2 linked regions of the Homo sapiens genome follow. The protein of the gene in region 2 interacts with the protein of the main gene of each other region in a biochemical or structural test. Each region holds a gene or a part of one and is shown on either strand. Other genes may lie near its edges. The genes, in order: SASH1 and SUV39H2.

Evidence for each region.
Region 1: the proteins of SUV39H2 (region 2) and SASH1 are reported together in a solved structure, tested with the Homo sapiens proteins (one study listed by BioGRID).

Annotation. Positions count from the first base shown.
Region 1 is NC_000006.12:148,338,696-148,346,043, forward strand, and holds the start of SASH1 (SAM and SH3 domain-containing protein 1), read left to right. Parts: upstream 1-4,142; 5' UTR 4,143-4,372; coding exon 4,373-4,528; intron 4,529-7,348. UniProt on the Homo sapiens protein: Is a positive regulator of NF-kappa-B signaling downstream of TLR4 activation. It acts as a scaffold molecule to assemble a molecular complex that includes TRAF6, MAP3K7, CHUK and IKBKB, thereby facilitating NF-kappa-B signaling activation.
Region 2 is NC_000010.11:14,895,586-14,902,865, forward strand, and holds part of SUV39H2 (histone-lysine N-methyltransferase SUV39H2), read left to right. Parts: intron 1-1,260; coding exon 1,261-1,932; exon of another isoform or gene 1,933-3,664; coding exon of another isoform or gene 3,665-3,727; intron 3,728-3,953; coding exon 3,954-4,100; intron 4,101-5,547; coding exon 5,548-5,677; intron 5,678-6,820; coding exon 6,821-6,927; 3' UTR 6,928-7,280. UniProt on the Homo sapiens protein: Histone methyltransferase that specifically trimethylates 'Lys-9' of histone H3 using monomethylated H3 'Lys-9' as substrate.

The sequences.
Region 1 (7,348 bases), on a different chromosome or scaffold from region 2:
GACAACTTTGTTAAAAAGCCCCTGAAGGGCCAGGAGCCTTGGCTCATCTCTGTAATCCCAGCACTTTGGGAGGCCGAGGCAGGTGGATCACCTGAGGTCAGGAGTTTGAGGCCAGCCTGGCCAACATGGTGAAACCCCATTTCTACTAAAAATCCAAAAATTAGCCGGGCGTGGTGGCAGGCTCCTGTAGTCCCAGCTACTTGGGAGGATGAGGCAGGAGAATTGCTTGAACCCAGGAGGGGGAGATTGCAGTGAGCCGAAATCGGGCCACTGCACTCCAGCCTGGGCAATGAGCGAGACTCTGTCTTTAAAAAAAAAAAAAAAAAAAAGAGAGAGAGAGATAAAAAGCCCCTGAAGGAAATTTTAGAAGAAAGGAGTGACAAGTGACATTAACTAAGAGAGAAAAGAGTCGTCAATCTTGGGAGTGGTAATCAGATCATGTTGAGTTAACACATGGAAATTGATAAGTAGAAAGTAGCTGGGACTACAGGCCACATGCTGCCATGCCCAGCTAATTTTTGTATTTCTAGTAGAGACGAGGTTTCACCATGTTGGCCAGGATGGTCTCAAACTGCTGACCTCAGATGATCCTTCTGCCTCGGCCTCCCAAAGTGCTGGGATTACAGGAATGAGTAACCATGCCTGGCCTCAAATTTCACATTCTATGTATAGGCATCAACATTTCTCCCAAAACATTATCTCATTTCCCTATCCATTGATTAAGAAGCACCAGGAAAAACAGCTTAAATATCTAGAATAGGTTGATTTCTATAAGTGCCAAAATGCTGGCTAAGGTTTAATTATATGTGTGTGTATATATATAGATATATAATTATAAATATAGATATCTATATAAATATCTATATAGATGTATTTTTTGAGATGGAGTCTCGCTCTGTCGTCCAGGCTGAGTGCAGTGGCTCACTGCAACCTCCACTTCCCAGGTTTAAGCGATTCTCCTGTCTCAGCCTCCCAAGTAGCTGGGACTACAGGTGTGTGCCACCATGCCTGGCTAAGTTTTATATTTTTAGTAGAGATGGGGTTTTGTCATGTTGGCCAGGCTGGTCTCGAACTCCTGGCCTCAAGTGATGTGCCTGCCTCAGTCTCCCAAAGTGCTGAGATTACAGGCATGAGCCACCATGCCCGGCCCGTTTAATTACACTGATGCGGGTATGTGTTGTCACTAAACTGTACGTGTCTTTAGATGACCCTGAAACATACTATAACCTGTGAAGAAGCAGGTGGCCATTAGTATGGCCTTGCCTCATCTTGGATGGGGAAACTAGCACCAGGTCAAATGCTTTGCCCCAGGTCATCTGATGAGTCAAGAAGAAAATGATTCTGGATTGGTGCTGGAGAGTCAGGCTTCATCCTAACCCCAGCCCCAACTGCCCGGCTTGCCTGGCTCCTTGCTGAGTTATTTGCTGGAAAGTGTTTATGTAGAGAACAGGCTGCCCCTTGGAAGCAGCACAGTCCTCTGCATCTTCTTAAATTTAAGAAAGTACCAGGCCAGGCACGGTGGCTCATGCCTGTAATCCCAGCACTTTGGGAGGCTGAGGCGGGTGGATCATGAGGTCAGGAGTTCGAGACCAGCCTGACCAATATGGTGAAACCCCGTCTCTACTAAAAATACAAAAATTAGCCAGGCGTGGTGGTGCATGCCTGTAATCCCAGCTACTCAGGAGGCTGATGCAGGAGAATCGCTTGAACCTGGGAGGCAGAGGTTGCAGTGAACCAAGATGGTGCCACTGCACTCCAGCCTGGGCGACAGGGTGACAGAGCAAGACTCTGTCTCAAAAAAAAAAAAAAAAGTATCACGTGGTGAATAAATTCAAATTCTTAAATATACCAATACAGTCAACTGTAAAGGCTATTTATCTTTTCCTATCATTTACTTATATTTATCTATTTATAGAAATGACAATTAAAAAAACCTCATCAGCCTTAACTGAATTTATTTTTATTCAAAGTATCACAGAGCACGAGGGAGCCTTGAAAACCCATCTGGCCTAACTCCGGCATCAGCCTAGGAAAGCACAAGACCTGGCTGTACTGACTCATAGTTCAGTGCTCTTTCTACTTCAACACAATGCCTCAATGCTATTAAGGAGAAATTTAATAATTCTTTTGGTTTCCTTTCACAAACATTATCGTCAGAGACTGTGCGCAGTGGCTCATGCCTATAATCCCAGCACTTGAGGAGACCAAGGAGGGAGGATCCCTTGAGTCCAGGAGTTTGAGACCACCTTGGGCAACAGCAAGAGATCATGTCTCTATAAAAAATTTAAAAAATTAGTCTGGTGCAGCGGTGTGCCTGTAGTCCCTGCTACTCAGGTGGTTGAGGCAGGAGGATTGCTTGAGCCCAGGAGTTCAAGGCCGCAGTGAGCTACGATTGCAGCACTGCACTGCCGGGGTGAGAGAGCAGGACCTTGTCTCTAAAAAAATTTTTCAGCATACTTTTTTTTTCTTTGGAGACAGAGAGTCTTCCTCTGTCACCCAGGCTGGAGTGCAGCAGCAGGACCTCACTGTAACCTTCGCCTCCTGGGTTCAAGCTATTCTCCTGCCTCAGCCTCCTGAGTAGCTGGGATTACAGGCATGTTCCAACACTCTTGCTATGTTTTGTTTTTTTTTTTTGTTTTTTTTTTTTTTGTATTTTTAGTAGAGACAGGGTTTTGCTGTGTTGACCAGGCTGTTCTCAAAATCCTGGCCTCAAGTGATTCGCCCGCCTCAGCCTCCCAAAGTGCTGGGATTACAGGCGCCAGCCCCGCACCCGCCAAAAACACACAAAAATTATCAGGGATTGTGTTTATAAATTTAGTTACTTTTGAAAATGTTTTTACATTTTGAACTTTCCTGTAAGGACTATTCACCCATTGCATTGATTGGTGCTCACAGCACTTAATACTTGAACAAGGGGAATTCAAGGACATGCTCTTATCCCCTTTCAAGTGGACTCAGAAGGAAAACAAAACAAAACAAAACAAAACAAACAAACAAACAAAAAAAACCCCACAATCAACAAGAAACAGGAGAGGCCTCAAAACAAGCAGGGCTCTCTCCCTGGGGCATCTCACTTTTTTTTTTCCTTTTAAACCACAAGGCCCTAACAGAGGAGCAAACTCCATGTGGTTTCTTAACTGTTTCAAAAGTGATCAATCACCAAATCGAATGTGACGTGCATTGTCACCTTCCAAGGAAAACTCTGAGTAGTCTTGAAAGATAGAATCACAAAAGGGAAAAATCACCTCTCCAGGGCTAGTTCCCTTATAAAATAAATCTGTCCTGGGGCTTCCCCTTGGAAAAACACACACAGGGCCCCAAGTGTGTGTAGGCTGACTGGCTACACAATCATTTGAATTTAGTTTCGAAAATAGCCCTTCCCTGTGTCCCTAATGTAAAGGAATAATTAAAACCCAAAGCGCATTTCCCTTAATTAGCCGAAAGCCCTAGCAATGCATGGCATTGTGGGCATTCAGGAGCCAAAATGCCCCCACTCATAAAAAATGATCCAAACAATGGCTCGTGCCCAAGCTTTCACACTTGTTTTGCAGAGAAGTCTTGGCTGGCAGAGGCAGGATTTGTAATTCCTTGGGTCGCTTGACTTCACGAGGGGCGAGGTATGCATTGTAGCGACACGGACTACTTGTGAAGCCTTTGGGCGGGAGTCGCTTAAAGATTAACTTTCTCGGGTTTCCGTTACCAAAAGCGTTTCCGTGAATAGCGTGATTGGAAACTTGTGCGGGCCGGAGACCGCGGCGCGGCTGCTCTTTCAACAGGCGATTTGTTCTCCTGTCCGAGGCTCATTTCCATGCAAAGAGCCTGACATCAGAGCACCTTTTGTTGCTAAACGCTTTCTTTAGCCTCGAGGGAGAGAGTCATGTGGAGCTGGAAGAGCTCATTTTGAAGAGAGGGGTCCCGGGGAGCTCCCTCCAAGATCTAGAGGCTCCGCGGCCACCCCTGCCGGGTCCTGCCAAGACTTGCTAGAAGGAACGAGTCGCGTGCCTTAGTTAGTTGGTTCCCGTCACAGGAAGAAACGCCTTTGCAGTGGGTTTAATTGCTTCTGGGCCGAGCGAATTCCCCGCCGTACAACTCAGTGGTGCGGACTTTGCCTCCTGCTACCCTGTTGCTGCGCCGAGCGGGGTGGGAAAGTTTCTGGAGTTGTCAGTCGCGCAGCCCGTGGCCACCTAGACCCGAGGTGCGGGCGCCTGCGAAGGGCCCCCGCGGGGTGGCCGGGGCCGCCGGGGCATGCAGCGCGGGGGCGCGGCTCGGTGACGCCGCGGGCGGGGACCCGGCATCCGGGCAGGCTGCGCGCGGGTGCGGGGCGAGGGCGCCGCGGGGACTGGGACGCACGGCCCGCGCGCGGGACACGGCCATGGAGGACGCGGGAGCAGCTGGCCCGGGGCCGGAGCCTGAGCCCGAGCCCGAGCCGGAGCCCGAGCCCGCGCCGGAGCCGGAACCGGAGCCCAAGCCGGGTGCTGGCACATCCGAGGCGTTCTCCCGACTCTGGACCGACGTGATGGGTATCCTGGTAAGTTACCTGGGGAGGGGGCGGCGCAGGAAGTACAGTTCGCAGCAGCCCCTCTGAAACCGGGGGCTCCCTTCTCGCCCACCCACTGGGCAACCCACTCCGCAGAGGCGTCCTTCTCTGGCTCTAGTTCTTAGGGGGCTAAATACACACAGTATAGGATTTCAAACCCTAATTAAAAAATAACCAGCCACAGGTCCCGTCAAAAGGTGTTTTTTAAACAATCGGGTATGATATTCAACAGTTTAATCTGGGACACCTGCTGACATGTTGGTGTGGAAAAGGCGAGAAAGAGGCCTTCAAAAAGTAGATGTAAATAAATATTTGGTTGGTGCTGGATTAGGGAAAAGGCTGATGTTACTGATGTTTATCTCTTCACCATTTGTTGTGTGACCACAAGAGGGAAAACAAACATTTCCTTACTCAGAACTGCCAAAATGTTTGCCTACTTTTTTTTGCAGTTTTTCAATTTGTGGAGTTACAGGATATTTGTTTTATATGTTTGGGGCTAAAACAATAGGACTTATTTTGCTAAATCTGTGCTGTCATGTATTTTGAAATGTCCAGTGACTAAAAGCGCCCCTGGATTTGGCATAGTCTCTGGGAAGCAGTTCTTCTGTATGGAGGGTGAAGTTTTAACCTGCTCAGGGTTGAATACCTTGGGGAAGTAATAGATTTGCTTTGGTGGAGCTGTAGTTAGGCAGGTAGACTGGAATCAGATGGGCGAGGTTTATTACAGTCAGACATCTTAATCCATACATAAAAGACAACTTTAGTTTAAAGACTTGGAATGGCCAGATGTGCAGATTATCAGAAAAGTCTCTAGATTTGCTTTGAGATCTTATATTTTTTGAGTGGGAGGAGATGGAGTGAAAGTTCTTCTTTGGGAATGATAAACCGTGTACAGTTTTTAGCACAGTGATTAAACTCTTGGGCTTCAAAGTAAGTTATACTAGGTCAAATGCCAGCTCTCCAATTGACTGTTTACATGATCTTGGCCAAGTCATTCAACCTCTCTGATCCTCAGTTTCATCACCTGAAAATTGAAGAAAAGAAGACTTGCTTCTTGGGGTTTCTGAGATTTAGCTGGGTTGATGTGTGTATCAAGTACTCAGCAGACTGTATAGCATATAGTAGAGGCTCAATAAGTGTAGCTGTCTTTCAGGTTTTATTTGTTTCCTGCAAAGTCTCCTGTCTCTTCCTTCTGGACATCCTAAAAGCCCAGTTACTCCATTTTCAGGTGACCATTGGTATTTATGATTCTTACTATACAGAGAACCAGCGAGCGTTGGTTAAAGATTTCTATCTGCTCTTGTCACTCTCCAGTATTGAAAAATGTATATAAATATGCATGCAATGTATATTTACATACTATATATAGCACATGTATATAATATACCTAAATCTAATATATATTTTAGATTTAAAAGGTTTTGTTTTTGCATTTTCTGAAGTATACAGATGAATATGATCCTTCACTGAAGTTCCAGAAAACCTAATGGACATTTTAAAGTTGTGATAAACTTTTTCTTTTCTTTTTTTTTTTTTTTTTTGAGACGAAGTCTTGCTCCGTCGCCCAGGCTGGGGTGCAGTGGCACGAGCTCAGCTCACTGCAACCTCCGCCTCCTGAGTTCAAGCAATTTTCCTGCCTCAGCCTCCTGAGTAGCTGGGATTACAGGCGCGCAACACCACACCCGGCTGATTTTTGTATTTTTAGTAGAGACGGGGTTTCACCATGTTAGCCAGGCTGGTCTCGAACTCCTGACCTTGTGATCTGCCCACCTCGGCCTCCCAAAGTGCTGGGATTACAGGCGTGAGCCACCGCGCCCGATAGACTGTTTTTAAGTTATCCTGTTATTTCTTGTCTAGATCCAGTTCTAAGTTTTCAGTCACTGAGGAAATTGGTTTGATAATATCCCATTGTATCCCTTACTCTAGGGCGTTGGGCTGGGGGCGGGGAGGATTGGGGGCCTGTTTAAATGAAACTTGGGCTGAGGGTTCTTTTGGGGAAGAGGGTTGGCCAGTGGCATTTTCTGCAGATTTGCTTTCCCTTCCCTGACAGATTCCAGCACTGTTGGGTCAGTTGTAGTGGAGTGTTCTTTGGCTGAGTTAAAAGATGGGGTGGGGCTTCAGAAGCTCAAACCTGCTATTGAAAGGGCAGATGCAGGAGCAAAGAAAATATGTACTTCAGCTAATCATTCAGGATCAGGCTGGGAAGAACGTAAAGCCTGTCCCAGACAGGTTGTGTTTGCTCATGTTTTCCTCTTGTTTATCTGGGGTAAACAGGCATGGAGATTGTTCCTTAGTAAAATTCAGAGGAAGACATGGCTTACTGCTCCTTTGTAGATGTCTTGCAGGGAGACACCAGGCTAAAAGGGAGGGAAAGCTGTCATCCAAGTGTTTATACAAACTGAGTCTTCGGGGAAATACATCAAGACACAAAATTAACAGTTGACTTTATTCTCACTGAAACAAGAGACACCATTTCCTTCCTTTTTTATTTAAAATATAAGATTTTGCAATCATCTATCAATCTAGACAGGTGAAGTGACTTGGCCAATGGCACATACCATGTTAGTGACAATGTTAGACTTGTCCCTGGTCGCTGGCCCCTCCAGTAGGGATCCTGATGTCATGACGCTCCATAGTTAACTCTCAGATGAATTCAGTAGAAATGTAGTTCAGTACATTTAGAAATCCTGTGTGTTTTAGGTAAAATGTGACTTACAAGATTCTTTTTCCGTACTGAACTTGAAGAGGACAGTAGAGGTAGTTGGGAAATTACACATCTGAACATTATCCTTAACAGATTTCAGACACAGT
Region 2 (7,280 bases):
GCATCGTGGCCAACAACAGTCTGAGGGATAGATTAGAATAGTTGCTCTTAGGTGGCTTGAGTGCCTGCTACCTAATCCAGTCATGGGTGAGTCTAAATAAAATCAGCATTCTCTAGAAGAGAGCTGTCCAATAGAAATGTAATGCAAGCTGCAGATGCCATTCAACATCTACTAACCACATTGAACAAAGTAAAAAGAAACAGCTGAAATTGCTTTCAAGAATGTATTTGATCCAATATATCCAAAATATTATTTCAACCTGTAATAGTTTTAAGTTACTTAGTGTTCTTTTTTTTGTATGATACAAAGTCTTCAAAATTCAGTGTGGGTTTTTTTTTTTTGCTTTTTTTTTTGTTTGTTTGTTTTGTTTGTTTGAGACTGAGTCTCGCACTCTGTCGCCCACGCTGGAGTGCAGTGGTGCAATCTTGGCTCACTGCAACCTCTGCCTCCCAGTTTCAAGCGATTCTCATGCCTCACCCTCCCTAGTACTGGCATTACAGGCGTGCACCACCACACCCAGCTAATTTTTGTGTTTTTAGTAAAGATGGGGTTTTCCCATGTTGCCCAGGCTGGTCTCGAACTCCTGGGCTCAAGCGATCCACCCACCTTGGCCTCCCAAAATGCTGGGATTACAGGCATGAGCCACCGTGCCCAGCCTCAGTGTGTATTATATTTTAAGCATATCTCAATTCAGATTGGCCACATTTCAAGTTTTCAGTAGCTGTATGTGGCTCGTAATAACCGTATTGGATAGTTCATCTCTAGAACATCTAGAGAATGTGTGCCCATGATGTTGAGAAATGAGTTCCCTTGTGTCTGGTGTTTGATATTAAGTTATGGACGTTAAGAATGCCTGAATCTATTGCTGGCCAAGTAAGCCACTAACCTAGGTCATAAAGAGTTAGCTTTGGGACCATTTATTTCCATGATCAAAATAAATACATCTGGGTTTAACCTGAATCACCATTTAGTAACATAGTCATCAGTTTCAGTACCTTTGTCTTTTTCCAGGTAAAACTCTTTAGCCTCTTATCAAACATGTTATGCCACATCTAAATTCCATATTTTATGTAATATAAGGAAAAATAGTTTTATTTGTATGATTTATACTTCATGTGTTAGGAACCTGTGACTACATGTTCTGAACTGTTAGTAAGAAAAATGGTATTGGATACCTTACTCTTTAAGATTTTTAATTATTTTTGGTAAAACTGGGAAATAGCCGTCTGATTTGCATTTTATTTTCTTTTGTATTTTAAGGATATGGAATATTATCTTGTAAAATGGAAAGGATGGCCAGATTCTACAAATACTTGGGAACCTTTGCAAAATCTGAAGTGCCCGTTACTGCTTCAGCAATTCTCTAATGACAAGCATAATTATTTATCTCAGGTAAAGAAAGGCAAAGCAATAACTCCAAAAGACAATAACAAAACTTTGAAACCTGCCATTGCTGAGTACATTGTGAAGAAGGCTAAACAAAGGATAGCTCTGCAGAGATGGCAAGATGAACTCAACAGAAGAAAGAATCATAAAGGAATGATATTTGTTGAAAATACTGTTGATTTAGAGGGCCCACCTTCAGACTTCTATTACATTAACGAATACAAACCAGCTCCTGGAATCAGCTTAGTCAATGAAGCTACCTTTGGTTGTTCATGCACAGATTGCTTCTTTCAAAAATGTTGTCCTGCTGAAGCTGGAGTTCTTTTGGCTTATAATAAAAACCAACAAATTAAAATCCCACCTGGTACTCCCATCTATGAATGCAACTCAAGGTGTCAGTGTGGTCCTGATTGTCCCAATAGGATTGTACAAAAAGGCACACAGTATTCGCTTTGCATCTTTCGAACTAGCAATGGACGTGGCTGGGGTGTAAAGACCCTTGTGAAGATTAAAAGAATGAGTTTTGTCATGGAATATGTTGGAGAGGTATGTTTCATTTGCCACGTAGTAAATGATGGACATGCAAGGTTTATACTTTTGGAAAATTACCTTTTTATCTCTTTAAGAGATACTTGGTACATTTTGATATTTTCATTTGCAGATATGTAGAAATTTATTCAGATTTAGGAGAAGAGTTCACTGGCATATTTAGAAATAAAAAACTTTTATATGAATAAAAAATATACGTTAAAACAAATTGATATAGTCATCTTTCAACAAATACACATTCCTACTAGTCAAACCTAGGATTTGTAAAATTTAAAATATGACAACTGTTTTTACCCAAAAGTCCTAAGAAGAAACTCAGATGTAACACATGCTGCTTTGAAACTTGAAAGTTTTAATTTACTTCATCTATTTGACCAAATATGATTAAATGTAGTTGGCAGAACTCTATTTTGGATCAACATGAAAGATACTATATTTATGAGTTTTGTAAAATATACACAAGCATTTATTGCATCCATAATCTGTAACTTACTTTTGAACTGTGAAGACCATTCTCAAAACTACCATACAAATACTAGCAAATTTATTTGTATACAAATCATATATATGTATATATATATATAAATGTAAAAAGTATTTGCCGTGTGTCACATACTATTCTAAGCACTTGATGTATTAATTCACTAATCCTCTCCAAAACTCAGTGAGGTAGTACTGTTTCTTTTTTTTTTTTTTTTTTTTTTTTTTTTGAGAAGTAGTACTGTTATGTCCATTATTGTAGAGAAATTGAGTACCTTGCCCAAGGTCACACAGGTCACATAGTAATAAGAACCGAGATTCAAAGCTCTAAAATCAGTAGTCTTCACCATGGCACCACACTGCTTCAAACTGAAGGGTAGGTTGAGCTGTGACTAGAAAGACACAAGCATGGCTACATATCTGGAGTTGTCAACTCTGGATTTTTTAGTTGGAATTGGGTCACCTATAATTATCTGTATTCATCTATAATTCTGAAACTAAATTAGATGGCTGTTTTGATTCTTACACTTTTAGACAGTGGTAGATTATTATAAATTATTCAGTATACAAGATCTTGTATAATCAAATTACTCTTTTTGTTAACCAAAATTTTTTAAGTTGCATTCTTAATGAGTGCAGCAGCCAAATTTGGTTGGTAACATAAAGTACTTTAGACACTTTTGGTTTCTTAAGCCGAGCGTGTCATAAAACTTGTGTTCTTAAGAGCAGAACTGTAGATGACGATCTTAGACTTACAGAATTGCATGAAAATAACATATTCTACAAAAACAAAACCTTCCATTCCAAAGTTAACATAGCTTCTCCCCTGTATTTTTAACAATTTTCCATTTGTAACTGCATATATATAAGTTATAGGAAAAATGTGCCTGGATCATATTTAGAGCATATACTTGCAGATTTAGTCCTTAACATTCAGTTGTGTCCTGTAGAGAGCTATAGTTGTATAGCTTTTTGAACATCCTAATTATAATGAAAGTAATGCAGTGTTCCAATGTACTGCTCAAATCCTGTTTAAAAAGTCATAAATCAACCAGTTACAGTTAATCCCAGCACTTGGGGAGGTCAAGGCTGGAGGCTCACTTGAGCCCAGGAGTTCCAGACCAGTGTGGGCAACATAGTGAGACCCCACATCTCTATAAAAACTAAATCATTAGCTGGGCATGGCGGTATGCACCTGTGATCCAGCTAGTCAGGAGGCTGAGGCAGGAAGATCGCTTGATCCCAGGAGTTAAAGGATACAGGGAGTCATGATGGCACCACCGCATTCTAGCCTGAGTGACAGAGTGAGACCCTGTTTAAAAAAAAAAGGTCATCAGTCTTTTGCATTATCATTTTTCTTCCCCTCATTTTCCCACCTCTTTGCATCTGAGTCTTAGTTTGTGTGAATGTTTGCTTTGATGACACCTGAATTTCTTACTTTTTAAATATTTGTAGGTATTCGCATATTAGTAGATAGGTAGATGAATGCTTCTTTGGTTCAGTAGCTACGTAATATACTTACAGTTTTTTCTGTTTAGGTAATCACAAGTGAAGAAGCTGAAAGACGAGGACAGTTCTATGACAACAAGGGAATCACGTATCTCTTTGATCTGGACTATGAGTCTGATGAATTCACAGTGGATGCGGCTCGATACGGCAATGTGTCTCATTTTGTGAATCACAGCGTAAGAAGACATACGTAAATTTTAGACACGACTAACAATTCAACCTAGTACTAGTTTCCATAGCTAAAGAATAATTCCCTTTAAACTACATATCCTTTTAACATTTCCAAAATATGTATTTTATAAGGAGGGCAGCTTCTGTTAAGTTATGGTATTATTGCTGTATTAGGAAAATTAAACATTGAGGTGCCTACCAAATATTAATAGGGTGTATTTTACAAGAGTCTTTACATATGTTACTTCATTTAAACTTTCTAGTAACTTTGTACGGTAGGTATTACTTTCATATTACAATGAGCAGAGCAATTAAGAGGTAAAATGTCCAAGAATTACACAGAACTGTATCTTAATGGAAGTTAACACGACTACATTTTAGGATGTACAACTGAAGGTAAATGTATTTTCTTAAAATGTAAACATGTTAACTTTTTATAAAATTTAAAGATTTGTAGAGTATTTATGTAGGGCTATTTTTCTAAATTATAAATTAGTATTCTTCCTTACCTTTTAATGTCTGAAAGCTCTTAGAATACAGCTGGCACTTAACTGCAGAATTCTGGACTCTAAATAATTTCCAAAAATTAGGGAAGTTAATAATTTTGGGTTACCTACTAAGTAGCAAGTGGACAGTAAAACATTAGGCTTGTTAGGGTGACATTATCTGCATTTTGTGGATAATAAGGACAGTGTGTGCCACAAAGTTATATAGCTGAACATATAAAGGAAGTAGACCATGTTAAACTTCTGATGGATTTCATAGTAAGAAATTGGTGTATGATTAGCAGAGAGCTTCTGGGCCCTTGTTTGTTGATTAAACATTGAAGAATTTTTTTCTTAATGATAAATTCGAGATACTCTCAAAATAGAGATATTCTATCCAGGGCCATCAAACAGTTTTGATTCCTTAGTATGACTCACTACATCTTTTTTCTTGCATATTCCGTAAGTTTACTGTAGTATTCTCAAAACATTGAAGAGTTTGGACCAAAAATTCAAGCAGTGAAACTCCATGCAGTGTAAAATTTGAGTTCTGTAGTGCAGATTTGATTTTTTAAACACAGTTGTTCTAGTTATTTTAAAGTGTATGCCTTACTGAAATAGTTACCAGTGAAATAATAATGTTATCTGGGATTTGTATTGAAATTCTCCAGGAAAAAAAAAAGTTGGGACTAGAGGAATAAGATTGGCAAGCATGTTACTAATTGTTGAAGCTGTATAGTGGATACATAGGGATTTCTTATTTTCTCTATTTTATACTTGTCTGAAGTTTTTATAAGGGAAAAAAATCTTTTTAAATGTGCATGCCTCAAAGACCTCTAAGCAATAAGCAACTTAATTTCCAGTGGAACTTAAACTAAATCTCTAGGAAAGTAAACATTTTATATGGCATGTAGAAGGGCTTGTTTACACCGTTTGTACTTAAATGGGTTCTAATGTTCCTTTTTAGTGTGACCCAAATCTTCAGGTGTTCAATGTTTTCATTGATAACCTCGATACTCGTCTTCCCCGAATAGCATTGTTTTCCACAAGAACCATAAATGCTGGAGAAGAGCTGACTTTTGATTATCAAATGAAAGGTATGCTTTTCAAGTACAGTTTCATTGGTGTCAGTTTCAATATGAAGAATCAAATCAGACTAGGAACAGACCTTAGATATTTGAACCAAACCTAATACTAAAGATGAAAAGTTGAGGCACTAAGTTTGTCATCCTAAGGTACAAAGCTAATCCAACAGCTAATACTAGAACCCAGGTCTGCCTGAGCTTCAGCTGAGGAATGGTTCTACATCGTAAATTTTCAGAACTTCCATTTTGGAAACTGATTTATTTATTATAGCATCTTAATACTGTACTACTTGTCTTTTTTTTTTTTTTTAAATTGTGGGCTAAGCATGCTGGCTCCTGCCTGTAATCCCAGCACTCTGGGCTTGAGCCCAGGAATTCAAGACCAGCCTGGGCAACATGGTGAAACTCTGTCTCTACAAAATATGAAAAAACTAGCCGGGCGTGGTGGCGTGTGCCTGTAGTCCCAGCTACTCGGGAGGCTGAGGTGGGAGGATGGCTTGAGACAGGGAGGTTGGGGCTACAGTTGAGCTGTGAATAGCACCACTGCACTCCAGCCTGGACGACAGAGACCCTGTCTGAAAAAAAAAACTATAAGCCTACATTTTTGAATTTTTACTGAGAGATGTATATTCAAAAGATTGAAAATATTTAAATCACATACAAATTTATTCTATTCCTACTTGAACCTGGCTTTTAAAAAGAACATTTAATTCTATTTGCTTTATTGTGACAATATAAATGTTTTCTTTCCTTTAAGAATGATGGCCTTTACATATTGTCATTGCTTAACCTCTTACATACTGTGCTTTTATATACGGTGTGAAATGAATGTGTATTAGATATTCCCAGTAAGTTTCATCATTTCAGAAATCCTTTCTGACAAATATGGGCTAATAACATAAAGTTTACCTATTATTAACCCACACCATCCTTTCAAGACAATTCATTATGATTTGACGCTGAATATTAACATTTATTTGTAAATATTTCAAAGGGAACTAACTACATTTCCTTGGGAGTTAACTTACTCTAAGGGTCTTGACCATGTAAGTACCCTCTATCACTGATAATAAAGCTAATATAATAGAAAATTTGAAATTTATTCTAAATTGTCTTAACTCTCTTTCTCCTATATTTCTTTTTCTGTGTCTTCAGGTTCTGGAGATATATCTTCAGATTCTATTGACCACAGCCCAGCCAAAAAGAGGGTCAGAACAGTATGTAAATGTGGAGCTGTGACTTGCAGAGGTTACCTCAACTGAACTTTTTCAGGAAATAGAGCTGATGATTATAATATTTTTTTCCTAATGTTAACATTTTTAAAAATACATATTTGGGACTCTTATTATCAAGGTTCTACCTATGTTAATTTACAATTCATGTTTCAAGACATTTGCCAAATGTATTACCGATGCCTCTGAAAAGGGGGTCACTGGGTCTCATAGACTGATATGAAGTCGACATATTTATAGTGCTTAGAGACCAAACTAATGGAAGGCAGACTATTTACAGCTTAGTATATGTGTACTTAAGTCTATGTGAACAGAGAAATGCCTCCCGTAGTGTTTGAAAGCGTTAAGCTGATAATGTAATTAACAACTGCTGAGAGATCAAA